Regions from separate parts of the Homo sapiens genome. Here regions 2, 3, 4, 5, 6 and 7 are each linked to region 1. Evidence: fine-mapped expression QTL. A gene starts in region 1. Each other region holds a variant in brackets. All regions are shown on one strand. Distances are between the middles of the regions.

Region 1 (4,069 bases):
CTTCATTTGGCTGTGTTCTATTTCCTATTGAGTGGAGTCTTTAGTTATAAGCTTTCCTTAGTGTTATTTAGAAGGCAGCCACTTTTCTCTCCAAGCCCCTTTCATTGAGTGTGAGCCAAATATCTGCTACTCACACTGCCTTAAATTCAGGGACTCTAAGTAATTTTTGGTAGAGGACATATTCTAAAAGAGACAGTGACCTTCTGTCTCTCCCCACAGGTCATTCTGTTTATATCCACTAGTAAGTGTAGTCTAACCAAGTTGGTGTGGAAAGTAGCTTCCAAGAAAATTTAACTTATAGCAAGGAAAGAAAAATGTTCTTAGGCAAGAACGATTCCTGCAAATTTTATAAGACGTGAAGCAGCTTAGAGTGTCCTCTACAAAGCCAGTATCCAAGACTGCTGGCAACAGACCCGACTAATTAAAGTGAGGTCCTCATTCAGACGGCCTCAGCATCACTTCAACACTTGCCTACCCCAGGCCTGCTCCAGGTCTATTGAAAAAGAATCTGCAATCCCCATGTGATTCATACTCACATTCATGTTTGAGGAGTATTGGCCTAGAGCAGTGGTTCTCAACCTTCATTGCACATAGGAATCAACCAGGCATCTTAAAAACAAATTAAGGCTGTCTGGGGCCCACCTGCAGAGAGTCAAAGTTAATCAGTTTGGGGGTGTGGCCTAAGCACTGGGATTTTTAAAAACGGCCCAGGAGATTCTGAGGTGCAAGGAGGGTTGAGAGCCACTGGCACAGGGGCAGAAGAGGCTATTTCTTCCATTCCGCCCCCTCTTTGTTGCGGAGGCAAACTGAGGTTCCTGGAGTCAGAATCTATCAGTCGTGGTGACTGCCCTGGTTGCACTGTAAGTATGGGGGGACGTCTCCACGAAAAAAAACTAACTTTCTGCCTTGTGCTCTGCAGGTCCCTCCTTCTCCCACCTTCCCCAAGTAGCTGCTCCTGACCCCCCCACACACCTTGGCAAACGACACCAGTGGCCGATAGCAACTGGTGTTTTAAAAATACTAATTTGGAGCCCCATTTGAGACCTACAACGGGAGAGTCTGCATCAGATTCGGCCTCAGATTCTACAGCATCTGACTACATTCCCAGGTGTGTGTGATGCGCAGCCAGGTTTGGAAGCTAGTGAACTCCACAGTAGGTCTAGCCTTTCACCACGTGAAGTCATTAAGGGTTTGTAAGAATGAATGAGCTGTCAAGAGAGGAAAGGCCTGGTGCAGTGTTCCTTTATTAATTATGAGGAAAGTGATTTATTGGCAATGATAATGCTTCTCTTGGAAAGGGCAAAGAATGGTTCGTCGATTGCTGCATTAGGTTTTTTCCCACTCAACCTTAATGCTCGGCTTTTACTCCTCACTGTAGTTTAAAACCAGCACGCCTTTCACACGAAACAGACTCTGGGTCTTTATTCCCAGGTGAAACGCATCTTTGAGGGAAATACCAACACAGAGACTCTGTCCCAGTTCTTGGCCGGGGGACACCCTCCCCCGAATATCTCTGTTTGCTTGTGTCAGCATCTAGTAGCCAACGTATAGTTGTGCATATCTGATACGTAGAAAAACACAGGGTGAGGATTAAAAAAAAAATCATTGATATATGCCCAGATCCTTTTGCTAAAAGAAAGCTTCCTTTAGCAGAAGGGCAGGAAGTGAGGGAAGAAAGATAGTTGGATTAACAAAGTCAGAGGTGAGAAACGGGTAGGCGAATTGGGGGTCAGGGTTCTGTCTGCGGAAGAGAAGAAGAGGGTTCAAAAGAAAAGTTGCAGCGCCTGTGTGCGCGTGTCATCGATGGGCTGGGTGCGAGAGACAGCGCTAGCGCGCGGCCACAACGCACTGCGGGGCCGAGAGCCGGCAGGAAATCGAAAAAGCTGCTCGCCGGCAGAGGCTGGGAGGCTGGAAGGGCTCCCCACCCGCTCGGTGCTCCAGAAACGCGCCGGCTTTGCCCCGACGCGATCGCCTGGGGAGCCCAAGGGGCGCGCAGGGGGCCCCGGGGCGCCCGGCAGCCGCGGGGCCGAGCGCGCGTGTGAGCGAGTGCGAGGCTGCGGGCGGCGGGCGGGCGAGTGTGCGCGGGAGGGAGGGGGAGCGCGCGCGCGCCCGGGCCCCGGCCCTCCCAGCCTCCCGGCCTCCGCGCCTGCCTCCCGCCCGCGCGCACCGCTGCCCGCTGCCGCGGCTCCCGCTCGCGCCGGCGCTGCACGGTAGTCAGCCCGCCGCCGCCGCCTGCTTTGTGCTTCCCACAGAAGATGGGAGCGACCTCTTCCTGATCGGGAGCTGTTTAAAAGGAGGGAGTGCGCCGTATTTTCTACTAGCGTGGAGGAACGGAGGAAGAATCCATTCACACTCCCCAAACCAGGTAGGATCTTATGATGGACAGGCAGAAGGCATTTAGTCAGAGACCAAGAACTATTTTCCATTTGCTGCTCATAAGGCTACACTTCCCTCTGCTTTGGCAAACGAGCGGCTTCTAAATTTGTGTGTGTGTGTGTGTGTGTGTGTGTGTGTGTGTGTGTGTGTGTGTGATGTGGTGTGTGCGCGCCTGCACATTTTTCTGGGTGTCCGCGCTTCCCAGAGTGAAATTGCTCGGGCTGGTGCGTCTGGGCGTGAGGGTGCCTGCCTGCCTGCCAGTGCAGGCTGCCGGAGGAAGAAAGGGCTGCTAAGGAGAGATGCTGCACCCTGCACCGCGCTGGGCTCTGAGGATTCAGGGCGCGAAGAGCTAAGTCCACCCCGAATGCAGAGCTGCTGGGGATCCAGGCGTCCCCACCCACTGGACTCTTCTCCGCGGACATCCCTCCTTCCGGTAATCCCTGGGGTCTTTCCCCAAGGCCACATTTCCGAGCCCCCTGTTTTCCAGCGGGCGTTGGGTGCTCATTCACCACGGACTGCGGAGAGGAGGGAGGTGTGGCGGGGCAGAGACAGACGAGGAAGAAATGTAGGGGGTAGCAGGGAGTGGGCTGCGGGGTCCACGTCTCTGGGCACTGTGCCGTGGTGTGCTTTGGGGATTCTGCACACACAGGCATCTTTCCCCAAGAGATTGGAAGGGAACTTTGCAGCTGCATTCTCTGCCTCTGGAGCTTTGCTGGCTCTTGGGGGAAATGGTCTGTGTTCTGAGATGTGAAGATATCCTTTTTGGCTCCTCCTTAATGAAGAAGAGGGCGGTCTTATAGCTGGACAGCCGGCCAAAGAAACCAAATCCGCCCAGGCGATGCTCTTGAAAATACAGTACGTGTGCATCCTTGATTCTTTAAATCCACCCCCTGCATCACCCCCGCCTCTTCTCTATCCCCCCCACCACCCCGTGGATTCTGTTGCTGTTTGATGAATGGCTTGGGCTGGCAATTTGTATTTCCCTCTCCAAAGTGGTAGTGGTTGAGTTGAGAACAGGGGTGATGAAATTTAACAAAGCATTTTTAGAAGAGAGCAATGTGCATGTTGTACGCAGTCATTGGAAAGTCATGCTTTGCGCTAGGTATCCTTTTGAAGCCCCCGAACCTGGCTCTCCTGAAGCCGCTCTCTCTCTCTCCTGCTAGTCAGCTACTAGTGGTTGTGAATATAACAATACAAACTTTGTCCTGCTGGAGGTGTAAAGACTAAAAAGAGAAAAAAAGGATATCAGTGGGAGGTGTAGTGGAAGAAGCTTTTTAAAAAATGACAGATGTGGTGAAGACAGTACAAGCGTCCTGATCATGGAGGAGCCTCTAGCTGAGTAGGTGGAGATTTCTGATCAGATCTGGTTAAAGGCATTGCTGGAGTATCTCCAGATATGAGCAGTTGAACATGCACAATCTGAGACTTGTGCGAAGATTTCCCAAGGGAAAGAGGGAGCCACCAGGAGAGAATTCTGAAAGTATACCTCTCTTTCCCATGCCCCCACCAGCGCGCGCGCGTGCACACACACACACACACACTCACATGCTTTCTCTTTCTCTCTCAAAGCTACTCCTGCAGCGAGTCAGAAAAAAAAAGGAAAATGAATCTAGATGTTTCATTCATTTCAAATAAGAAGACAAAGCCGGAAGAGGGATGATTGGTTTTAGGTTCCTCTTTCAAATCCTGTGTT
Region 2 (4,069 bases), 240 kb after region 1:
GAAGAGGCTATAATTCCTTTTGTTAATATCCAGCAATATGTTTTGGTCTTGAACATGTGAGGCTTCACATGTGCATGTGTGTGCATATTCATACATGGAAAATGTATGGGGAGAAACAAATGTGGAGGCAGACGCAGATGCCAGATTCCTAGCCCTCATCAAATGGGACTTCTTCAGCCACACAGTCATCATTTCTACCACTGGCTACACACTTAGGTTTTCTGAGGATTTCTGAATATCTGTGATCATCTGTGGCTATTCATTTTCCATGACCCATTTAATTGAAAGGTGGTGTGGTTACTGTTTTTCTTTTAGGAAAGCAGAGATTATTGCCCTGAAGTCTCTGGAAATTAGCCACAGCTTGCAAATTTGGAACACCCAAAGCAAGCTTGATGAATTATCCCCAGTGTAATATCCCCAGCGCTTCTGCCAGAAGAAAGGCTTGGCAGTGTGAGAGAATTGATGCAGCTCTAGTTTCTGTTGTACCAGCTGCAAAGTGGACTTCGCCCCTTCTACCAAAACACAGAGTAAAATGATCACTTTTGAAAAAATATTTGAGATGACGGGGGAAAAAATGTCCTTGGGATTGTTTGTCAGATGCTGGGCTGGTTGGTGTTAAGCATAATTGTGAAGAAATGAAGGGACTTTGGTTAAGTACCCCAAGTTTCCTCAGTATCTTAGTACTTTGCTACTGCTGGTGCCCCTTTCGGTTATTCATTCATCCATGAGCAACTGTCACACATGACATTCACCTGCCGAAGATGCACCTTAAGCTCAAGATTTAGTTGCTGGTGATGGCATTGTCCCTTTTTGATAGAATATTGAAAGACAACAGCATTGATCAGCAGGTTCTGGGTGGTTAGTTGGTGGTTCTGGGATCCACTTACTCCATCTACTGGTCAAATATATCCAGTCTAGAAAAGGCTATTTCCCTTGGCTGTGGACAGTGGATACAGCTCTAAATAAACATCTTCAATGGTAGGTTTCATTCCTGGGTCACTCGGTGATCTTACCAGTGAATTATCTGTGGGTACTCATATCACTGGGAACAGGAATTTGAGGCCTGGAAATTTGACATGAAATGTGTGATCATTTCTGAAGTCATCTAACTCAAAGTAGAGACCTACAGAGAAGAGACAACTTAGTCATCTTTAAATTATGAAGACTTAAAGCTATGGCATAGTACCTTAAATTCTGGTCAGTATTGATCTGCAGCTAATGATGATGTCACCTCCACAAATCAGACATGGGTGCTTTACAGAGCTACTTACAGGCAACTTCTGGCCCTGACTTAGCCTTAGCTCTCTTGCCCAACCCCCCTACACACACATGCTTTGTTGCCCTAAATTTATGAATCTACACATAGGACTCCTCAACTAAGTCTACATGTGGCTGATAGCAGAAGGCAGCACTGTTGCACAAACAGGAACTCTGAGTTCAAGCAATACTCTGCCCAAGAATTTGAAATTGTTGATGCAGAAAGAGAAAAGAGCAAGCAAGAAGAAAGAAAAGAAAAGAAGAAGAGTCTTCACTTGTTAATGCTCCATCTTGCTTTCTTTGAGGTGCTCCTAATGCCTTCAGAAGGCAGCAGATTTATAGATCTGAAGAGAAACAACAGGATCCCTGATGCCTTCAAGATATTGCATCTCGGCCAGGCATGGTGGCTCACATCTGTAATCCCAGGAGTTTGGGAGGACCACACAGACACGTTGCAAGGTCAGGAGATACAGACCATCCTGGCCAACATGGCGAAGCCCCGTCTCTACTAAAAATACAAAAATTAGCTGGGTATGGTGGCATACACCTGTAGTCCCAGCTACATGGGAGGCTGAGGCAGGAGAATCGCTTGAACCCGGGAGGCAGAGGTTGCAGTGAGCCAAGATCGCACCACTGCATTCCAGCCTGTCGACAAAGCGAGACTTGTCTCAGGAAAAAAAAAAAAAAAAAAGA[T/AAAAACAT]ATTGCATCTCTTCTGTTTAGCACCTGGAAATAAGTAACAGATAAGTCGCCAGAATGAGGAACTATGACTTAAAAGTCTTCCCTTAGATTAACTGGGATTTATGTCTCTTTCTCTGTCTCTCTCTCTGGGCCATATTGAAATCCTTTTCCTCCTCTTCCTCTCTTCATTGCTTATTTAAATTACATAAAATCTTTATGGATTTTTCAAACCAAGACAAATACAGTGCATTGGAGAATATATTATGAACAATTGAAAATGTTTTATTTATGCTCTAAATATATTTTGTTCATCAAATTTGGATTAGGTATAGAATTATGATATTATGTGGGCATTAACTAGTGATGCTGTTCCCTATTTTATTCATGCATCATCTTTTATGTTTTTAGTGTGTGACAGACACATCACTTCACTGTTCACATCTTCAGAAAAATTATTTTGCTTTATTTCTAAAGTGATCCGGATTCTGTATCACTCCCATGAAATAAAAGAGGACCCTAGAACCTGGGTTTTTCATCTACCTCTTTGCTGAATCCAGCCCCTTAAGGATGACTGATTTTGTCCAAGTCCAGATTTCCAGAAGTTCTTTTTTGGCCCTGATAGTCCAAACCATTTGAAATACCTTCAGGATCCATTCATTTCACTTCCATAACTTCACAGGGTCTGCTGCTCTGCTTTTCTCATTGTCCCTGAGGGATTCTTTTCTGGCTTGTGTTTCTCTTCCCACCACCTAAACATGAAAATCTTCCAAGATGCCTTTTTCAACCACTTAGCATGCCTCCAAGTATCTTTCCTTTGCTAAATTTCCACATAATGACTATCACTTCAGCATTGATGACTTTCCCATCTATACCTTTAGCTCTAATCATTTTTGTAAACTTCAGGTCTACATTTTTAGCTGTCTATTGGAAAAGCCCAACATTTTGAAGTCCTACTGGCTTCTCAAAAAGACAAATAAAATGTCAAAAACTAAACTGAATTTAAAAGTTCCACTATCATTAGAAAACTTTATAGGAAGAACTAGTGTAGTTATGTTAAAGGTGCCAACGTACATGAGTTTCAGATCTCATGAGTATGCACAGTAAAATAATTAAAAGGAAGAGATGAGCAAGGTTGTTGTGAGATGACTGGAGAGATGCCCACTAGCTCCATGCCCCACAGTGGGTCCTCAGCCAATGGCAGCCATTCATTTTATCACTGAACTTGACATAACAATTATTTCTAGACTGGAAAGACAAAGACCTACTTCAGAATGGCCTGGCTTTTCCAAAGGTGATATACCACTAGAAAATGAGGGTCTTGATAAAATCTAGCAAGGACTATGTCCTGTGTAAGTTATCCCTCATCTTCTTTTATAATTGCATGTAGCCTTATGATGTTAATGATACCTTATATACATAACCATTCTGTATTCTGTACATGACAAAAAGGTAAAGGTCAACAGGCCTTCCAAGAAGTAAACTGAGTGGGAGTGAGAATAAAGAGAGAGCTGATGAGAAGCAATTCAGAAGAGTAGGGAATCTAAAGGTCAGAAACCATTTCCCAGTGTGGGTGCAGAAATGACAATAAGTGCTTCAATTACTCAGCATTCATTAGATAATACTGAATTTCTGGTGAAACAGGAAATTCATTTGCATTTCAGATTTACCCCTTCTCCACCTTTCATTTTACAGCAAGAGCCCTTTTAAGATGACTTAATGGGCCTTTCTCCCCCCTTAAAATTCCGAAGAAAGCATATACACTACATTCAGTAGTGACTAACACTTTCTTAATTATCCCTTCAATTTCTTGAAATCAAATGTGATTTGGTTGGGTCCTGTTTAAAAGTCATGCCAGTCTATTCAAAAGACAAGCACTGGATGATCCCCTTGAAACCTTTAGAAACTGAAGTCACTACTTGTAGAAGATTAAGACCTTGAGCCCAAATGCAAAGAGCTATGAGTTCAGTGAAAATCCAGCCAGCAGGTATCTTCTTCCTGCTGTGTTAATAAAGCTCTTGTTTCAGGCACTCATCTGCAGCTCTTCATACCCTTCTCTTATAGCATCAATTCCCAAGAGCATTAGTTGTCAGGCCCTCTTGCTACATGATATTTAAATAGGTACTGTATATGTTTTCCTTAC
Region 3 (4,069 bases), 57 kb after region 1:
CAACCCAAAAAGTCAGGTCATTATCACTGGAATAATTGTCATTGATACAGCAACTACAGTTTCTCTTGCTGGTTTGCTTCTTTAACTTCTCTTGTTTTTTTTTTTTTTTTTTTTTTTTTTTTTAGTTATTAGAGATGATGGAGGTTAAAAGGATGCTGCTTAACAAAGATAAAAGCTCACTTAGACTAGTAATCTTTTTTTCTTTTTAAAGAAACATAGGATTACAGAAATATTTAATGAATTAATAAGGTACTTCTCAACACATTTTTTTCATTGCCAACTAGTTTTTCCAGGTTATGTACATAATTGAAAAAGTGTTGTGTTGCGTGTTATGCTTTGATGCAGTCTTGTTTTGTAATCCATTGCTTTCAAATTTCTATCATCATCTTCTAATTATCTTAAATTTGCACTGTGCTACTAGAATAGAATGATGGTATTATTACTATTATTACTGGCAGCAGAATTGAAACCTGGAGTATAAGTGGTTTGCAGACCATTCATAGATTCATGTAACCGTAGAGATTCATGGTTGAGTAGTTGAGCACCTGACTTCTATGGGAAAAGCAGCGCTCTTCAAGTTACTGCCTAATTAACAAACACACTTCATGGATTGAGGATTTAAAGGGGAAGAATGGTCATGCTTAGTACAATTGAATGCATATTTGCTACTAATTACATATACCTCACATTTTCTCTTAGAGACCAACTGCTTTAAAAATATTTTATTAAATGTTTTTGTTACCCTGACAGAGATACATTCCTTTAAGGGTGTTTTCAGCAAAACATTCAAGTTTTCAGGAAGTATTATCTTTCTTTCCTTTTACCCCTTTCCCATTTCCATGAAATTAAAAGGAAATGCATAGCCAAGTGTTTTTTCCCAGAAGAAAATAATAAGAAATATGCTGATTTTACAGAACAGTATGAACAGTTATAAGGGTCTATGTAAAAGGCAGCGTGTGTTCATTCTCCATGCATACTATTAGTAAAAATGAATGGACTTTCTCCTCATCTGTTTTTATTTAGAGCAGGACCTTCTTGCATTGAATTTCCTGTGTCAGCTGTGTTCTAATTCTGTAAAGCCTTTGGTTAAGGAACAGCTCTGACTCTATATCCCTATCTTTTCCTTTCCCATGTCTTAATTTTGAGTTCTTATCACTCTGATAATAAGCAGACATTTCTGAAAATCAGAAATCCTGCAGTTCCACTTTAGTTTTTCTTTCTCTTCCACTACCTTTCCTCTCTTAGAACAGTAAATATGTCAGATGGGAACCTAAAGTCAACCTCTGTGCTGTCTTGCTCTGACTTAAATGCTCTCATCCAAGTAGGTGGCATTTCTCATGAGGGGCCAGACAGAGTTATGGAACACCACAAGCAGGGTAGCCTTCGGATTTGACTTGAGAAATTAGGAAGAATCTGGTGGTCCTGACTAAGAGTGCCAGTGATAAAAATCCAGGTGAGCACAGACCATTGTCATAAGAGGGGCCTGCACACAGTTCTAGATAGGTATGTTTACAGGAATTCGTGGTCTGAATAGCAGGGCTAGATCAGATTTGAGATCTGATTTACCTAATACTAGAAAGAATGTAGTCAGTCAGGAGACTCAGGCCGGACTTTTTATTTGATAAAGAAATGAAACTGTTGATGTTGGTTTCTTCAGTAGGATTTCTCTACTTCTTTTAGACTTCTCAAAAGGTTTTTGTTTCTTTAGTTGTTGCTTTTGTTGTTGTTCCCCTACCCTCAGAAGTAAGTAGATTAAGGTAAACTTTTGTCTTAAAGAGCACTGTCTAGTTAGTCCCTGTTTTCTGGACATCAGTGGTCTGTTAAATCTATAATCAGTAGGTGAATTTGTTTACACAGACATGAGCATTTGTGCACATCTTTTGTGGGACTTTGCAGAAAAGAAGAGAGATGTTACCTCCTCAGCTCCAGAATCTTTTACTTCAGTGTCTCATTTCCTCTCTGGGATTGGGGTAGAGTTCTTGGCACAGAAGATGCTAACAACTGACTTTCTGGGAGTCTTTGCACAAATGACAACTTCTGTGGCCTTCAACTTCCCCAAGCTAGCATGATGGGTAGATTAATATGTTCCTTTTTGGCAGGAATGGGAACTAATTTTTTTTTAAAGAAGGAGGAAAAAACACGTTGTGCTAAATCAGTGATTACTATGGCAACAGGCACTCTATACATGTTAGAAAAAAAGAAGAAAAATGCAATCACAGTTCTCTAAAGAGGAAGATAGCAGAAATAGGTTCACAAACTTT[A/T]TTTTCAAAAATCAATAAATATGTAGTAGGCATCCACTATATGCTCTGTATAATCTTATCGAAATGTCTAACAGAAACTTGATGATAAAACCAAATCTGCCATTTGCTTGCTACCGCTCTGTTTCAGAAATTCACTCACACACCACACACACACGCACACACACACACTAACAGAAAAACCACAAAGAAATAGTATATACCATATTTTAAATAAAATAGTTAAATTTCAGTGCCCTGATGAATCCACGTTAGAAAAAGCAAATATCTTACTAGCTTATTGGGCAGAAATACCCAAGTTAGAACAAATTACTCTCCCTAGAATGGCTGTATTCACCCCCCACCCCACAAAATGCAGGTGTTTGCGTAACATGTTGCAACCGTGTTGGACACATAGTTCTTAATGTTAGTGCAGGGTTTCTCAACTTAAGCTCACTTAGACTAGTAACCTTTTTTTAAGCTCCGTTGACATTTTAGCCCAGGTCATTCTTCTTTGTGGGGGGCTGTCCTGTGCACTACTGTAGGATGTTTAGCAGCATTCCTGAGCCCTACACAAAATGTCAGTAGCATCCCCCAGACTGCCACAAGCAAAACTGTCTTCAGTCATTGACACATGTCACCTAAGGGGCAAGTCACCACTGGTTTAGAGCTACTGGTTTCAAGTAACCCAGCTGTGTTCTCAGGGCTTGTGGTGGGGTATTTGAAATAACCCATTGCCATGAAAAGGGTAATAGGCATAAAAATAAAAGCTGAACTTTATAATATTTTGGTTGATTGGGTGATTTAGGTTATGACTATTAGTGATTTTGCCAGTTTGGCTCTTTTATGACAGATCCTGTTATATAAATAAAATCACTAATTTTCCAACTGTAGTATCTAATTGTTACAAGCTGAATTTTGGCAAATCAAATGACACAAGGATAATATTCCAATTCTTTATTTTTTCACATTACACAGTTATCCCCCTAATTAGTTTTGCTGGGAGCACCCTCATATGGGTTTATATGGAATTGGAAACAATGTTGGTAAATTAGAGAGTACATTCAAAATTATGACTACACAGTGGAAATAAGAATGTAATAATCTTTTACAGCAAAGGCTGTACAGATTGTTTTAAAGGATTAAAGAAACAGTGAACTAAGGGATGACAGAAAATCATTTGGAACATAGCAATTCCACCCTTGAACCTGTAAATATCACATTATAAATTTTATATGTGAGATTTTCATTGTATTATACTACCAGATAAAGCAACCATAAACATAGATTGCTAAGTTTCTTAATGCACATGCTTTGAGAAATGACCTCAAAGCACAACTGGATAGCTGTTGGGATTTTTTTCCTAAGTAATACAGAGCTGTGAGGTTTGAAGTGTGTTCTAATCATTGTACTTTCGGAATTTTCAGAAAAAAATAGAGGTGATGCTAACTTGTATGTTTTGGATTTTGTAACTTTGTTCTTGACATGTTATAACTCTGTAAAACGGAGCTATAAAATAGATTAGACAGTTTACATATTTTTTAAAATCTGAATGAGTTCATATAGTTCAGCTAAAGATGAAACACTGATAAAATTCAGTCAGTATCACTATTGATTTGACAACATTTCTCCTGCTCCTCTTTTGTCTGCTGACTCCTGCCAGCAAAATAAAGTAGATTTACTAGTACACTATAATCTTTAGAGTTCTTACAAGGCACAAACAGTAAGTATTTAACTCTATGCAGGGTAAGAAGAAGTGAAGTGAGTAAAAAGTAGTGTAATCTGTCCCACTTTAACGTAAACATTAATGTAAATATTAATGCTGAAAGCCC
Region 4 (4,069 bases), 60 kb before region 1:
CCTTTTTTTTTTTTTTAACAAATATGAGCTTTCCTGAAGTCCCACCCAGGGAACTCCTATTGACATCTGTTTGGACAATATTATGTTGCCTTGTCATCTCCAGGTGTGAGGGACAATAGGAAAAAAGGTTTTGCTTTTGAACTTCTAAAGTAGAAAAAGTAAGGGAAGAGAGGGTATTGAATGGCTCCTGGGTAAGCACCCATCTACCATGTCTAGCACTGAGCTGCATTAGGTTGGCTTTTTAAATATCATATCTTAATTTTCATTAGATACAAATTATTATTACATAGAATAATTGGAGGTTCCAAGGAGGAGGTTGGAATATCAGAATATTTTGAATTAAAAAACACAGTCTCATCCCTTCTTGTTCTGACCTAAATGCTTTGGCAGGAAAATTACTCAAATCTAGGAATACTCACATTTGCCATTAATACATCCGTTTTGTACTTCGTGTCTTTTTTTCACACATCTGTTTGTTGTTCTCTTTTCTCTCTTTTCCTTCAATTTTTAATACAAATTTTAAACACACACCGATAAATAGGATAATATAATGAACCCCTATGTACCTATCAACCACCTGCAACAATGAACATTTTACCAGCCTGGTTTTGACTATTCCCTCCTTTTATCCCTCCTGAATATTTTAACAAAACTCATTTCATTTCTGCCACACCAAAATGAGTTATGTCTGTATCTATGCCTCTAATTTATTTTTGCTTCTTCAAACAGAATAACTTACAAGGGTTTTAACATGATTTCGAAAAAAAATCAATGGAAAATTATTATTTTGAAATCCTCTCTTCTCTTTCTCTCTATATTTTGACCTCTTGTTGCACAAGATTAACAAGTTGGAAAAAATGAGAGAAATAAATGTTAAAAATGAGAAGTGAAGTTTCTAAAGAACTGGGGTGTTAAGCAGAGCTTCAGCAACCCCCTAAGGGAGTACTTCTCCACCACGCAGAGCAGAATTTATCCCCCATCTAACATTTAGGTCACAGATATCTGTCATTTAAACTATCCTTGACAATTAACAAATGTAAAAATTAGTATTCTATTCATATTTACATTCTTTAATTTTTTTAAAAAAATTACAAATCTTAAACTATGTTCTAGAAAGTAGTTTAATGGGAACTGCCACAATACGCTATATGAGAAGCTGTTTAAAATAACAGCTTCTTCTCTCTTAGAGATATTGATAACTTTTACCCTCTGCTATCTTTTCCTTGAAGACAAATAATCCAAAATGTTAACCACTATTCCCAGTTAAGTAAATATGTAAAGTACGTAGTTTTTCATTCACATACAGTGTTATTCATCTGTTCAGCCATTCGTTTATAAATTCATTCATTCATTAAACATTTCACAGGTCCCATATACATGCTGTCACTAGAATCTTTAAGGATGAAGACTCTAGTAAGGAACCATAATTGTCTCTCTGTTTTCATAAAGCTAGGCGAACCCACACCCTAAAAGCTTTATGTGGGAATCAGGTAAAAATTGGTTATGATCTAAATATTTGGAGAGTAGAAATGCCAATCTCAAAAGTGTTTTGGAAAAAAAAAAAAAAAAAAAAGCATAGTGACAGGATCATGTGGTGGGAAATGGGCCTGGCTGGAAGAATCGCTATATGTGTATTTTTATCATCCATGTGTTGGATGAAGCAGAGAGCTGCCAGATAGCTTCTTTTCGACAGCTTGGAGTTACTGTTGGGAACAGATCCATGTATGGAAGCGAAAGCCGAAAGGCACAGATAAGCTGAGATCCAGCTATGCAAACCATGTTTAGAGACACTTAAAGGACAAGCATCCCAGGTCCTTTCTTTCTGGTAAATTTAGAGAAGGCATCATACTGGGATCTTTTTTCACATCCAGCCCATGCGGACTGAGCAGCCAAAGCTTGACAGAGGTAGGTGCCGGGCTTTTGTGATGGAACTTCTATAAAGGATCATTTGCAAATATTTCCTCCAGAGCCCTTGATGTCCTTTAAGGGAAGGTGCCAGATAATATTTTGAAAAGAAAAACAAACAAACAAAAAAATAGGTTGGAGCTAGTGACTAAGAGGTATTTAACAGCTCTGCCTCCACAAGACAGGGAAGCTTTGCAACGGAAGGAAAGTGGCAACACAGATTTGCTGCCAAATAAAATCCCTCTGTCCTGGGTCACTTACCATTTGGAATTTTGTGGATACAAGTCTTCCTCGATATTGCCAGCACCTTTAGAAATGAGCCACAGCTTCCGCGGGGTTCTGAGACTCACTGTGTATTTTAGGCTAGGGTAGGTGGGATTTGTCTTTTTCCTTGCTTGTTCTCAAGCCAGCAAAAACTCGCATGTGTGACTAGTTCTTCCTTAGACATAGGAAGAGCTGCTTGTAAACGACATTATTTTTGGCAGCTGAAGTCATTTTTGCAATATTTCTCAGCAGTTCGGAGGTTGATTACATCCTGTTCAAAGATTCTTGGGTTGTTTTCACAAACACGGGGTCTTACGCAAGTTGAAGT[T/A]GCTGAAACCAGCTGTGAGCCCTGGGCTTTTCTCAGCACCTTTAAAATTTTGTCTTCTTTCTTTTTTTTCTACTGACTGAAAACTTTGGAACTTGAGAGGAAATGTTTCCAAAGATTATTATCGTTTTGTCATCAGTGATGTTTTGGGAATAGATTGTGGCAGAATATCAAAAATTCTGTGTCTCAGGAATGATGCAAGGTAAAAGTGTGAATATGAACAGAGTAACAACACCAGTATCTATACGACTGTCCTGTATTTTCTAGAATACAGATAAATCCAGCCAAATCATATCAATTGCATTTTGAAATGCGACTCCAGCTAATTACCAAATTGTAGTTATTAAATTAAAGCATATCTGTTAAAATTGTTAGCAAAGTCTGTGAACTCCTGCCAAACACAAAAGTCAAGAGAAAAAATTATAGGTCATATCTTTAAAATATGCATGTTTTGCCAAGATTGAATTAAAAAAATTTACACAAGATAATGGGATTTAAACTCAAGATTTATTTTACTGAGAATAATGTGTCCATAATTCAAATAAGATTTGAACCAATTGTTTTTACTTAGCTAAGTTTTCAATCTAGAGTATGAGTGGGAAAAAAGAAAAGAGAAATGGAGAAATATTGAATGTGACCTTCCTTCTCTGATGACAGACATGACATGGAAAATTATTAATAAGCAAGTGTAAGAAAATAAAAACAATTTGTAATACTGACCAAGGAGATGTTCTCTGGATAAATTAGATGTCTGGGAAAAGCAATTCATTTAACAGATACAGATGAAATGACTACTTATGTGGTGGTTTCTTTCAAGCTCTGAATGTCCCATTACACCAAAAAAGTGGCAGAGAAAGAGGAAATGTGTTTTTATTTCAATAGTGCACTATAATTATTAAAATAATTACAATACTAAGGGATTGTTTCCATCAAATTATTCTTTTATATGCCTATTTACATTGAGAGCACATTAAAATAACATATTTCTATATTTCTAAAATAGGCTATTTTACTTAAAAATACTAATATTCTATATTTGTGAGAGAGTTAGAAAGAGAGAGAGAGAATAAACTATGCCTTCTTTTTTTAAACTAACAGAGACAAGCTGTCATAACTTTTGCTAAAGTGGAACAGGCCTACGAAAAGATGGCTTTAAAATACTTAATTAAACACTATATACCAGCCGGCTTCTCAAAAGAAACAGCACAGCAGGAGTCTTTGCAATTTTCAATATGTAAAAGGTTGACATAAATGATGCCACTAGTGTTTGTGAACAGATGCAATGCATATATGATATCAGCTACTATCTTCTCGTTTGCCTACTGCCAAGTGCATTTCAAGTGTGCACTCCTCATGAGAAATGTCTGCTCCTGTTTTTTCTCTTGAAAACTAATCCAAGAAGCATAATATAAGTAATAGACAATGACTTACTGCTAATTTTGTATATACTATGTCAACATTTGTGGAAGAAAATTCATGACAGTCAAGCTACTTGCCCTTTTATTTCATGACTTCTTAAGCATTTAGTGATGACTATACATCTAGAAAATCTTAAAGAAATCATATTTTGAGAGG
Region 5 (4,069 bases), 36 kb before region 1:
GGTTGTAAAATCTGACTAATGGCTTCTTAATAAGGGGACACTGTTTTGGCTTGGGGGGATTTAGAAAAGTGTTTTATTGGCTAAAGTTTGGGGATTGTTCCTGTGGCAGCAAACCTTCTGATCCTTTCCCATGCTCAGAGACTAACCCCAGGGAATGTGGTCAAGAAGCCACTTAATGGTTCTCGATGGAGCTGAAGCCTCAAGGTTAAGTACCAAATCTCTATCAAGGGAGAGAGCTGAGTGGGCCTGTTCTTTTGTCTTCAAGCTTTCTGCTATCTTCTCTCCTTCTCCAACTAAAGTGTTCTAATCCCAAAGTGAAAGTGAAACTCTACTCTACTCCCCTTCTAATAGTATGTCACAGTCCCGTTACACCAGCTGGGAAGAACTGCGTTGGTATCTCTAGTGAGTAACATTGAATGTCAGAAAAGTGAGAACAGACTTTTCGGTGGGTGAAAAGGCACAGACCGTGACCATGGGAAGAAAAGTTCCTTTCTCTTTTTTCTGCCTTGCACCCTGCTTTGTGTGGAGTCTATTTTTGATATTGTACCTCGTCTATATGGCATGTTCACCTTAATACATGTGTTTGCACGTATGCTTTTTGGTTTACGGGGCTCGTGTAATCCCATTTAAGCCTGGCAAAATTTGAGGTAGATTATACCTTTGTTTTACAGATTGTGAAATGGAGCAGACAGACTTGATTATTAATTATGTTTCTCTTATAAATTGCTAGCGATGTGTCACCTTAGGCAGGTTTCTCTTGTTCTGTAAGCTTCACTGTGCTATCTGTAAAACAGAAACTCAGACAGCCTCCTTGGGTTGATGCAACAGTTACATGACAGAATGTTGGTAAAGTAGTTAATGCTGTTCCCGACACAGAATAAGCACTCAATCAATGACAGTTCTTATCGTTAGAGTATGATTGTTGCTATAGTTAGGATTATCTTGTGGGACTCTGAAACAGATATTCTACTTCCAAATCCAACATAATTTCCTCTGTCCCAGGTATGTAGTTTCATGTAGCAGTGTAAGTCTCTCTCTCTGAAGATGGACATCAGTCACAGAGCATTTCATATGCTCTCTTCACTCCTACTGAACTATTTCAATAAAGATATTAAGAATTATAAGACATAAACACAGTCCTGAAAAATCTCAGACAAGCAAAGAAATCAAATTGCATATAATATTAACACGGCACAAAGAAAGAACTCATGTGAATTTAAATAACCTTTAAAATCCAAGACGATTTCAGGTGGGAAGAATTAGGAGATTCGTGGCTTAGTACAAAAATGTCTGTTTTTCTTTTTCTCCCCCCAACTCTTTGGTCACTTAAACACACATGGAGTTGGTTTTGCTCAAAAGCACACTGTCATATGAGACTTCCCTTTTAACAGTTAAAAGGGAACATGTTCATTTTCTCCACGTGCTAAATGGGCTTAAAATACACACATGCGTGCACACACACACACACACACACAAACTAGAAAGTGGGTAGCTTGGGAATCATGTTTCAAGAGGGTCTGCCTGCACATCTGTGAAATAAGATGAGAGAATACGAATGGGCCTGAATCTCCCAAATTCTATGGCACGGTAATTCCCTGTCATTTATAGTCTTTCACTAGCTTCCTTGGTGAGCTAGCAGGAGGGGAGAGGAGGATTATTCATTAAAATCCTTTACTTTTGTTTCAGTCTTTTTTTTTTTTTTCTGTCTACAGAAGGTGTCCCCCTTGTGGTTATAGAAAAAGCTGGACTGGCAGTTTATCTCATCTTGTGAAATTTCACACATGGACAAAGACTTTTAGTATTCTGTCTATCCACCTTTTAGTAGCTCTTGCTTCTAAAAGGGTAAACTTTTACTCAGATACTCATTTCTATCTGAAAGTTAATGCTAAACTCAAAGCCAGATATTCAGTCAGCTGGCTTTAAACTTTTTAACCCCACTTATGATTATTTTTAAAATTCTCTTTCCCTGTGGCTGGTAGTATCGTTTTTCCATGAAGTGGTATCAGAGATTAAATGGTGTTATCTGTCCATGAACAATTTACTTACTGGAGCATGAAAAAGTGATTAAGCATGTGTCTGTTTCAATGCCATGACTGA[C/G]CATTAAGTTCTCTCAAGTATGCAACCCAGCTTGGCCTTTTCAGCAGCAGTGAGAAAACCAGTCTGAGTGAGCAGGTTCCGCAATGGGCTTCTTTCACTCCTGTTCCCCTCTCTTGGAGTCACAGTGAACACTAAAGTAGTGGGAGTAGACAGTTTTGGTTATTCTTAAGGAAGTATCTTGGTAGAGCTGCTGTTTCTCTGTTGAGTAGGAATTCACTATTTTTCCCCCGACTACTGTGTTAATATATCCAAATATCTTTTCCAAAACTATAGGATTAGTAAAGGTTTTATATGCCACTTTGATAAAATTGCTTTCACAAAAGCAGTTTTTAAGAAGACAGTTAAGAGCTCTGAGACAGTGGTTTCATAAAGGAAATCCAATTAGACTCTGTCTTAATTGTAGAATTTTTAAAAAAGAGAACAAGAGATGTGAAATATTCCTCTCAATCATCTGTCTTCTGTAACATACAATTCTAGAATTGTTAGGAAAAATGCACATTAGATACCAAAAGTGTTAAAATGTCAAATATTAAGGAGAAAAATCTAAGTAATAGTAAATCAGCAAAGTATGGATTTCTACATCTTACCGATTTTACCTCACATGCTACCTCCTCAGGAAGGCCTAACAGTATGATTTTCACCACTGCTGACTTGGTAATCAGGCACATTTCCTATACATACATATTATAGACTGAATAATTGAAAAATGAAGTGGACATTTAAACAATACCAACTTCTGCTCAAAAGGGATTCGATGCAACTTTATTAAAGGCAGTATTACATAAAAACATATTAAGCCCCGGTGTGTGATGTTCCCCGCCCTGTGCCCAAGTGTTCTCATTGTTCAGTTCCCACCTATGAGTGAGACCATGCAGTGTTTGATTTTCTGTCCTTGCAATAGTTTGCTCAGAGTGATGGTTTCCAGCTTCATCCATGTCTCTACAAAGGGGTGGGGGGAGGGGGGAGGGATAGCATTAGGAGATATACCTAATGTAAATGACGAGTTAACAGGTGCAGCACACCAACATGGCACATGTATGCATATGTAACAAACCTGCACATTGTGCACATGTACCCTAGAACTTAAAGTATAATAATAAAAAAAAAAAGAAATTAAAAAAAACATATTAAGATACTACTAATAGGAAACCTCATTAACATGGTGTGGTTAGACATATTTTCCCTTTTTCTACCCATTCTTTCTAACTTGTATTCATTGATATATTATCTGTGTGTTTTAAAAAATGTAACAATTTTAAAAATCAAATACAGAGTGTCATGTTTATAAAACACACTATGGAGTATGAAAATTATTTGTTAGAAAGAGGAATATATCTTATTGCCTAATGGCAGAATTGTGTTTCAGGGTACTTGATCTGATTAAGCATCCAGATCCAAGGGCATGCTGAAATAAGTTCTACTGTGTTTGATATTCATACTGAAGCAGAGGATATCAGTACTCTCTTTCACAGCATATTATTTCTTTTGTATCATAAGTGTATTTTTTCAGAAGACATTAATCATGTATTAGTCTGTTCTCATGCTGCTAATAAAGACATATCAGAGACTAGGTAATTTATAAAGGGAAGAGGTACAGCATAGCTGGGGAGACCTCAGGAAATTTACAATCATGGCAGAAGGCAAAAGGGAAGCAAGGCACCTTTTTCACAAGGCGGCAGGCAGGAGAACTGCTGAGCAAAGGGGGGAAAGCCCCTTATAAAACCATCAGTTCTCATGAGAACTCACTCACTATCACGAGAACAGCATGAAGGTAACTGCTCCCATGTTTCAATTAACTCCCACTGTGTCCTTCCCACAACATGCGGCCATTATGAGAACTACAATTCAAGATGACATTTGAGTGGGGACAAACCAAACCATATCACATCATTTTAATAAGTTTGTATAAGGGCAATTTATGTATCAATTTATTCTTTAAACAAATATTGAGTGTCCAATTTGACCAAATCAT
Region 6 (4,069 bases), 300 kb after region 1:
TGGTCCAGTGTGCTATCTACTGCCCTTTAGAAGAAGGAAATTTCAAAATGAGGAAAATTGCTCCCTACTCTCACAGAGAGACTGGCCGCGTCACATTACCTGCGGCCATGGTGTCATCATTTCATGATGGAACTAACTCCTGCCTAGAGCTTTTGAAGAATTGTTAATAACTGAGATATGAAACCTCTCAAGTCTTCTTGTCATACAATATATTGTGCTTTATGTTTCTAAATGACCGCTTGGAAATAAGGCACAATTGCTTAGAAATTCGCAGGCTGCTGGGTAAATCGACCTTATTTACAATTTTGAGAAACAACATATCAGAAAGTCAAACCCATGTTTTAAAAGCACCAAATTATACGCAATTACATGAAGGGCAGTTTCAAAAGTTGAGTATTTGTCTTTATGATTAAATTTAACTGTCTAAAGAATGTCAGTATTCTTAGGCTGTTACACAGGCAATAAAATTTGTAAAGCAGCATTTATTGAAGTCAGACTTTCATTGGATTTTAAAATTTCATGGCTAAATAGTTGAGAGTCAGTACAATTTGCCTTATTACAAATATTAAATTGCTTTTAAAGGGCTCTACTGAGAGGTTTCTTTGCTATGCAATTTTCTGTGCAAAATTAACTCAATATATCTCGCTAAACAAAAATAATAATTTTGTAAATAGGGATTTGCTTTTCTTTCTCAGTAACTGTATTCAAACTGGTTTCAAAGTCAACCCTGTGGCAATCTTCTTGTCCCTCTGCTTTTTCTGAATTTCATAGCTCAGTACTTGGGCCTCCTGTGACCATAATGATTCTGCCAACCCAGTTCTTTTAATTCCATATTTGAAGAGTTAAAGGATTTATGAGAATCCAGAGATTAGGAAGCGATTAAGCAGTTACATCCTGGCAGTTCTCCTTCTGTTTCTTCCTGGGTTGAACACTAGGAACAGTGGGTTCTGCAGTTCAATGGCTGTCAAAACTTGCAAGGCAAGTCCAGTACCACGAGGTGCTGTTAAAGTGTGCCAGCATATGCCCTTCTCCATGAAGCCAGCATTCCCTGTCCAGTTTGAGTTTTTCCCAAATCTCTCTCCTTCTACCAGGGCAGAATGGTGAGTCGACTCTAAAAAATCGTGTGCCAGCTGAGGTATCAAGGGAAACAAGTGTGTCAGAGAAGAGGGCAAACATTAGCTGGATAAAGGGAACCAGGATGCCAGTGCCAGTTCCACAACCACCATATTGTTCTTCACAACAGCTTTGGGCAGAGGTGAGGCAAAGGAGAGAATGATTGCAAGGCTGGCTTTGGAGACAGGTGTGGGTTTGTGTCCCTGCCTTCCAAAACCTCCCTGGATGACTCCAGGAAGATTACTACACCTCAAGATCTCAGTTCGCTCACACCTCAGAATCTCAGTTTGCTCATATGTAAAGTAGAGATAACTGCTTTATTCATAGAGCTGCCATAAGAATTAATTTAAACCGTATGCATTTTCACAAAGGCCATCTGTACATGGAAACGCCAAAGTTGGTTGTTTGGGAGGCAATTCTATTATAGAACCTATAATAAAATATGATCAAATTTTGTGCAAATGCAGTTAATTCAATTTAATTAATAAAATAGCTATGGGACTAAAAACACACTGGTTAACTTCTTTCTTTCATGGTATCATGCATACCATTTTATAAATAAGAACACTGAGGTTTGGAAAAACAATGTAACTACTTGCTCAAGAAGCAAAACTGTTAAGGGGCAGTACCAGGCAACAAATCAGCCCAACAGTCTCTCCAGCATGAAGGGTGCACTTGCTTGCTGTGCATGAGGCCTGAGTGAACACACATGTAGAACACACGTATACACAGGTACGCAGAGACATGCATGCATTGTGCGAACACAGACACACACATACAAATCAGGTATGCACGTACACAGAGGCATACACACATACAAAGACAAAGATACACAAAACATGCATACATAGACATGCACATTATATAGTAGATATTTGTTTGGATATTGGAGCCGCAGCTTGAAATAGAAATGTTTTTTTTTTTTCCTTAATATTTGTTAGGTCTCC[T/A]TATAGTCCAGTGCACAAGTTCCTTGGGGAGGATGCCAGTCAATTCCCTGAAGAACAAAGGGAAGAATTTGTTTTCCTAGGTGCACCCATAGGCTTATCCTGCCTAGTAATTTGTGACATTCTTTGAAGTCAACACACTCCTCCCTCTTTCTTTTACCTAATGTTAAATATCCAGCATTAAAGAGTTTCCTGAAATTGTTTTACTTTTGACATATCCATTTGCATATCAGACATAGTATGTATTGGCATCTTTATAACGAAAGAATACTCAAAAGTGACTCAAAAAAAAAAAAACTCCAGCAGTTTTGGTTCTGTCTCTTACCAACTGTATAATCTTGGCAAAGAATTTAACACTTCTGATTTTTGGTTTCATCATCAGGAAAAGGAGAGAGTTGGACTAGGCTAGCTCTAAGATACCATCCAATACTGAAACATGGGAGCTCTGTCGATGGCCATTATAGTCCTACAGTAGCCCTGATGGGGATTTTGCTTCATGGCCCGTTGGATTTTGACAATGGAAAAGCATATCTTGCCCATCCTCTGGCTTGCCTAAACTAAATATTCAGCACAATAGCAGCATACACTTCACTTCTGTTCTTCTAGAAGGAAGGGGATTAGAGGAGAGTTGAAGTTTAGCCTCAAAGAAAGCCAAGTGAGATGATGATTCAGAAGTGCCTATCTTCCTGTTACATAATTGGATCTCGGGAATGCCAGTGGAATCTTCTACAGTACAAGGGAAGACATTCTACATGAGGCCCAGCTGGTGCATGCTGCTGACCTGTCCACACTCACTACATTTCACAGCAAATTAAAGTGACCCAGTTCCAGCTAAATAAATAAGTAGAGGGCATGTCACCTTAGCCCACCAGTCCAATATGGATACTAGTTCAGTTTAAAGGACGCTTCTGTCATCAGTCCATCCATGCATGCTTTGTGGATTAATATCCTCAATTATTTAATATAAAATACTGTCAACTCAGTGGTCCCCTGGACAATAATTCACTTGACTATCAGCCTGAAGGCTAATCTACTCTAAAAGTCTTAATAAAAATGGTACCTCAAATGAGTTTCAAGGGATTGCCGTGAAATCTGGTCTAAGCAGGAGACTTTTCAGCATCTCGTCTGTTATTGAACATCATTACTATGGGGAAATTGTCATTACTTAATCCTTGTGGTAGCCTTAGGTCATCTGAAAATCCAATTTAAGCAGTTAAAAATTCTGCTAGGGCCAGGCACGGTGGCTCATGCCTGTAATCCCAGCACTTTGGGAGGCCGAGGCAGGTGGATCACGAGGTCAGGAGATGGAGACCATCCTGGCTAACACGGTGAAACCACCTCTCTACTTAAAATACAAAAAATTAGCCAGGCGTGGTGGCGGGTGCCTGTAGTCCCAGCTACTAGGAAGGCTGAGGCAGGAGAATGGCGTGAACCCGGGAGGCAGAGCTTGCAGTGAGCAGAGATCTTACCACTGCACTCCAGCCTGGGTGACAGAGCGAGACTCCATCTCAAAAAATAATAATAATAATAATAATTCTGCTGTGTCAGATTTGACATAGCCTCAGTGTGTCTAGAAGACAACCAAAAAAAGGAGGAGGGTGTTACCAATGGGATTTCTCATTTTGCCCTTTTTCTTATGTGATATCAACATTCATAATTTTCCTTTGTCTAAAATCATATGTTGACTGAGGTTCATGAAGAAGGATGCTAGTCTCATGAGCAAAAGTAGGTAGAACTGTCCTAAGAAAGTTTCTCACTTGAGCCAAGGAGTTCAAAACCAGCCTATGCAACATAGTGAAACCCCATCTCTACAAAAAAATAAAAAATTAGCCGGGTGTGATAGTGCATGCCTGTAGTCTCAGCTACTCAGGAGGCTGAGGCAGTAGGATCACCTGAGCCCAGGAGTTCAAGGCTGCAGTGAGCTGTGATTGCACCACTAGACTGCCTAGGCTACAGAGTAAGACCCTAACTCCAAAAACAAAAAAGAAAACTTTGTCAAAGACATATGAGTG
Region 7 (4,069 bases), 47 kb before region 1:
ACACATTGAAGTACATGAAAGAAACATTTATCTTCCTTAGTATATTTCCCTATCCGACCAGGAGAATGTACTGGGTGATTTCTAGAAAGCTCCTTTCCTCTAAGTTACTGATTTAGTTACAGATACATTTCCCAAAGAAAGGTAGATTGCATCCATATTCATCAAAAGAAGCATACAGGTCAAAAGAGAGTGCTTGTGAATCAAAATATCCAGAAATAAGGGAGATAAATGAAACTTGACAACATTATTTAAAATGTCAGTCTTTTAAAGTGAGCAAATGTATGCAATTATTTCCTAACTATTTTGCTAATTTACTTGAAGAACTGAAAATAGCAGAAATGTTTTACAAAGAGTACATAAATACAACTTAATGAAGTTTCCAGGGTGTTAATGTCACTGGGGTGTTTGATATATAACTCAAACAATACAGAAAACAAATACAAAGTAAAGAAGGATAAAGAGATAGAGAAGGATAGAGAAAAGAAAGCAGTTTTAGATAAGGTGATCACAGGAAATAAAATTTGAGCAGAAAACTCAATGAAGTAAGGAAACAAGTCATGTGAATAACCGGGGAGATTTCCAGACAGAAAAATGCAGCAAAGGAAAGGCCTTGAAGTAGGAACAACTTGATATGTTTAGGGACAGTAAGCAGCCCCGTGAGAACAGGTAGGAGAGTTTTTCGAACATTACATCAGAGATATAGCCAGCAGCTAAATCACTAGGTCTTTGAGAGCTATAGATTTGGCTGAGGGTCCTAGAAGCCACTGGAGGATTATGAGCTGAGAAATAAATGATCTAGTTTACCTTTGTAAAAGTTCTTCCTGGCTGCAGTAGGCAGGATAGACACTAGAGAGGCAAAAGCCAAAAAAAAAAAAAAAAAAAAAAAAAAAAAGTCAGATGATAATACCTTACCTTATAGGTTCAGTGTCTATGTAATTGATTATCAGAACAATTATATTTTTCAGAGAGAAAGAGGGAGCTATTAATAATGACACTGGATCAACATCAATGAACTGGGAATGTCCCAAGAAAATGGAGACATATGTTTTCCCTAATTAAAAGCCTCTTTTCAAGAATAAATGAATACTTAGTTCAAATAATGGCTGCTAAAATTAATAGTTCCATTTTTTCCCCAAATATTAGATTTATAAGATATTGATGGACCACAGGCTAAAAATAACTTTATGAATGAACAAACTAGCAACTACGGGTTAAACTCAGATAAATTTACTCTAGGGGAATTTATTCTGGAGGAATTATTGGGGCTTTTAATAAGTTAATCTGTCTTGGGAATATTGAAGCCACGGTTATAGTAATGCAGTGTTTCTCAAGGCCATTTGTCCATGGATTTCATTGTTTTAAGAAACAATGAAACACAATATGAGTGGAACTCAATATGAGAAAGGTATGGTCCATAGATAGAGTGGAAAGGATGATGAACATGATTCAAAGATCTGACCCAGAAATTTTAATTAGATTGCTGGGTAGGTAACTCAGAAGTATGAGATACTCCAAATCCTGGGGGTTTTGTTGTTGTTGTTTGTTTGTTTGTTTGTTTTTTAAAAAGTTGGCCAATAAAGATGGTATATATTTAATGTGTACAAGATGATGAATTGTTACATGTGTACACAAACCACAGTCTAGAAACAACAACACACTAATGTAGCTGCTAGTAAAATCTCAAGGTTGTTCTGATCTCGAGATAGAAAGAAGCCTTTTCCCACTTTCTATAAAACATCAAATATTTGCTTTGTGCTTGTGGCTCCATGGACTTCAGTTTATACCCGAGAATATTTTAAATAAAGGCTTATTGCTTCACTGCCCTTATCCTCCAGCAAGGACTTGGGATGAGAGGCAAAGACTGTGTTCCAGAAAAACAGATTCTGACTCGGTTATTGACACAGAAGTCAGAGACATGTATGGAAAATTAAAGTATGAAGACTAGAAGATGAGTTTGGCAATGACAGGAGTGCCTGAGCTGGTCCGATAACCAACCAGAAGATTGTCCTAGGTCCTGGGATGAACACTGTTGCCTGCAGTTGGCTCCCCCCATAAACTCTGATGGGAAGTGTGTGGGCAGACAGCCTCTAGGACAGTTGGGAACTGTCACCAACTCACAGACCCTGGCTTACAAATGACCAATACTTTTTTAAAAGCTTCTTGAAGAATATCTCTCTAATTCTCTTGTTCCTTGGGGAACAACTCACCTTTTGCTCCTGGTAACAGTGGAAGTTGGCACAAAAGCAATTCCTATGTGCCAGACACTTTTCTCAGTGATTTACCTATATTAACTCACTAAATCCTAACAATAACCTTATGAGCTGGATCCTATTATCATCCTCATTTTTAGATGAGGAAAATGAGACAGAAAAATGCTAAAGAAATCTGTCCAAGGTTACACAGCTAATTACAGTAGAGCTAGAAAAGTCTGACTCTAAAGTCAATGTTATCCTCTACTCCACTGTGAGCAAACGCAGCACAGAGATGAACTGAAAAA[AG/G]TATCTTCTTTTTGTCCGATACCACTAGTTCCAGTCCTTACGATTATATATAACATGATTCTTCTTCCATGTGACACTCTTTGAAGTCTCCACAGATCAACAATTATTTGTGTTTCTCTCGAATTTTCTCTGTGGCTCCAGTTTCTTTAGTCTATTCTCTTATCATGTAACTGGATTCTGGCTTATATCAGTGCCTGAAGGTTTTTCTTTGAATGTGCTCTTATTTCTATTTTATTATTAATTTAGTTTGTATGTTGAGCGAGTTGACAGCCCCAACTCAGCCAAGAAATAGTTTTTAGGTAATTCTGAGAGCTCAGGTGCAGGATCTTCAGATCCACCCCTATTAAATTTCCTCTATTAAGATTTTTATGGATTCTAAATGTCATCTAGCCTGCTTTCAGTCTTCAACTTTGATATCCATTGAAAATGTAGTGAAAATGGATTTTATATCTTCATCCAATAGTTTGACAAAGTATTTGGACAAAACCAAGGACAGAGCCTTGCAGCACATCACCCACTCACTATTCATCTAGAGTTGGCAATTTTTGAGCACAGTTGTTAGGAAGGATTACATTAAATTGTATTGTTCAGTCCATATTTCTCTATTTGGCCTTAAGTAATTTTATGTAGTTATGTTAAAAATCCCAGTGAAGGTCAGAAACCAACAGCATTTATCTGTCTGATAGGTTTTAGATCCCTAAAGCTTATGAAGTTAGAATGACTTTAATTTGAACATTGAAATTATACTTGCAATCTTGTGGTTCCTATTTCAACCTCTAGAGTCCCTTAAAGACTACTGATTGGTTCAATGTTCTCTTTTAAAAAGCTTTAATACATTGGCATATAATTTACTTTTGCAAAATGTCTGAACAAATTTGGAGCAGCCAGGTACTGTTTTACCATCATGTTTATATTTGACTTTAGTTTCACTTTATTAATGTTTATTGTTCACCGTCCAACCAATATATGCAACTGTCTATTCAGCCCATTTCTGCGGAGTCTAAAGACTCAAATTTAACATGTTGTGATTTAAACTGATCATCTTTACTATCCACCTGACTGACCTTTCTGATTTATCTAACTCTTTGGTTAACTGTAAACTGAAAATCAGCTTAGATCCCCTTTTTTACTTAAGTGTCCACAACACACCAAATCAGTCCCAAAATCCAATAGTTCATACCTCCTGAATGTCTCTCATATCCATTACCATCTGCCTCTTATATTACATAAGTTATTGCAATAGCATGCTAAGAGATATCCTACCTCCACCCTGGCTGCTCCCTACTATTCCCCACGTTGTTGCCAAAGTGATTTGCTAAAACACAAGTTTTATCAAGCACACCCACAGGTAAAAATCTTTCAATAAATCCCTATAACTCTCAGGATAAAATTCAAATTCATTAACTTAATACCAAAGACCCTTGAAATTGTAGTTCTGCCAGTTATTATCAATTGCTAGTAGCCCTAAGTTTGTCTCTCACTGTCTCCCCATAAGCACCCTTTGTCCCAGTTATTCCAAACTACTTATGATTCACTGAACTAGTCAGAGTGGCTCAGATCTCCATTTCCTA

Direction of the effects. Alleles are on the strand shown, and positions count from the first base shown. SD is a standard deviation of normalised expression in the study named. Not every link is listed here.
As copies of T replace AAAAACAT in region 2, the expression in iPS cells of the gene that starts at base 2,179 in region 1 goes down (moderate effect, 0.54 SD a copy in HipSci).

The links. PIP is the estimated chance that this variant, and not a neighbour inherited with it, causes the effect.
Region 2: its variant is the best candidate, but not a certain one, in a credible set for the expression of SLC8A1 in iPS cells (HipSci, PIP 0.70).
Region 3: its variant is the best candidate, but not a certain one, in a credible set for the expression of SLC8A1 in blood mononuclear cells (TOPMed, PIP 0.67).
Region 4: its variant is the best candidate, but not a certain one, in a credible set for the expression of SLC8A1 in whole blood (TOPMed, PIP 0.89).
Region 5: its variant is the best candidate, but not a certain one, in a credible set for the expression of SLC8A1 in blood mononuclear cells (TOPMed, PIP 0.88).
Region 6: its variant is the best candidate, but not a certain one, in a credible set for the expression of SLC8A1 in monocytes (Fairfax 2014, PIP 0.87).
Region 7: its variant is the best candidate, but not a certain one, in a credible set for the expression of SLC8A1 in whole blood (TOPMed, PIP 0.65).

The regions. Positions count from the first base shown.
Region 1 is chr2:40,450,200-40,454,268 of GRCh38, reverse strand. It overlaps SLC8A1 (solute carrier family 8 member A1), which reads left to right and starts at 2,179. Exons shown (of 11, transcript NM_021097.5): 1 at 2,179-2,365.
Region 2 is chr2:40,210,163-40,214,231 of GRCh38, reverse strand. The region is part of intron 2 of SLC8A1 (solute carrier family 8 member A1); the gene reads left to right. All of the region lies in intron 3 of SLC8A1-AS1 (SLC8A1 antisense RNA 1), which reads right to left. Among named protein-coding and RNA genes, the nearest start is that of SLC8A1, 240 kb to the left of the region's middle. RefSeq lists an enhancer at 3,192-3,786. The variant T/AAAAACAT (reference allele first, on the strand shown) is at 1,951.
Region 3 is chr2:40,392,803-40,396,871 of GRCh38, reverse strand. All of the region lies in intron 2 of SLC8A1 (solute carrier family 8 member A1), which reads left to right. It also overlaps the pseudogene LOC124905995. Among named protein-coding and RNA genes, the nearest start is that of SLC8A1, 57 kb to the left of the region's middle. The variant A/T (reference allele first, on the strand shown) is at 2,262.
Region 4 is chr2:40,510,185-40,514,253 of GRCh38, reverse strand. It overlaps LOC101929667 (a long non-coding RNA gene), which reads right to left and starts at 2,332. Exons shown (of 5, transcript XR_007086295.1): 1 at 2,167-2,332. It also overlaps a transcript of SLC8A1 not described here. The variant T/A (reference allele first, on the strand shown) is at 2,498.
Region 5 is chr2:40,485,859-40,489,927 of GRCh38, reverse strand. It overlaps a transcript of SLC8A1 not described here. Among named protein-coding and RNA genes, the nearest start is that of SLC8A1, 36 kb to the right of the region's middle. The variant C/G (reference allele first, on the strand shown) is at 2,098.
Region 6 is chr2:40,154,646-40,158,714 of GRCh38, reverse strand. The region is part of intron 9 of SLC8A1 (solute carrier family 8 member A1); the gene reads left to right. All of the region lies in intron 3 of SLC8A1-AS1 (SLC8A1 antisense RNA 1), which reads right to left. Among named protein-coding and RNA genes, the nearest start is that of SLC8A1-AS1, 240 kb to the right of the region's middle. The variant T/A (reference allele first, on the strand shown) is at 2,061.
Region 7 is chr2:40,497,619-40,501,687 of GRCh38, reverse strand. It overlaps a transcript of SLC8A1 not described here. Among named protein-coding and RNA genes, the nearest start is that of SLC8A1, 48 kb to the right of the region's middle. The variant AG/G (reference allele first, on the strand shown) is at 2,498.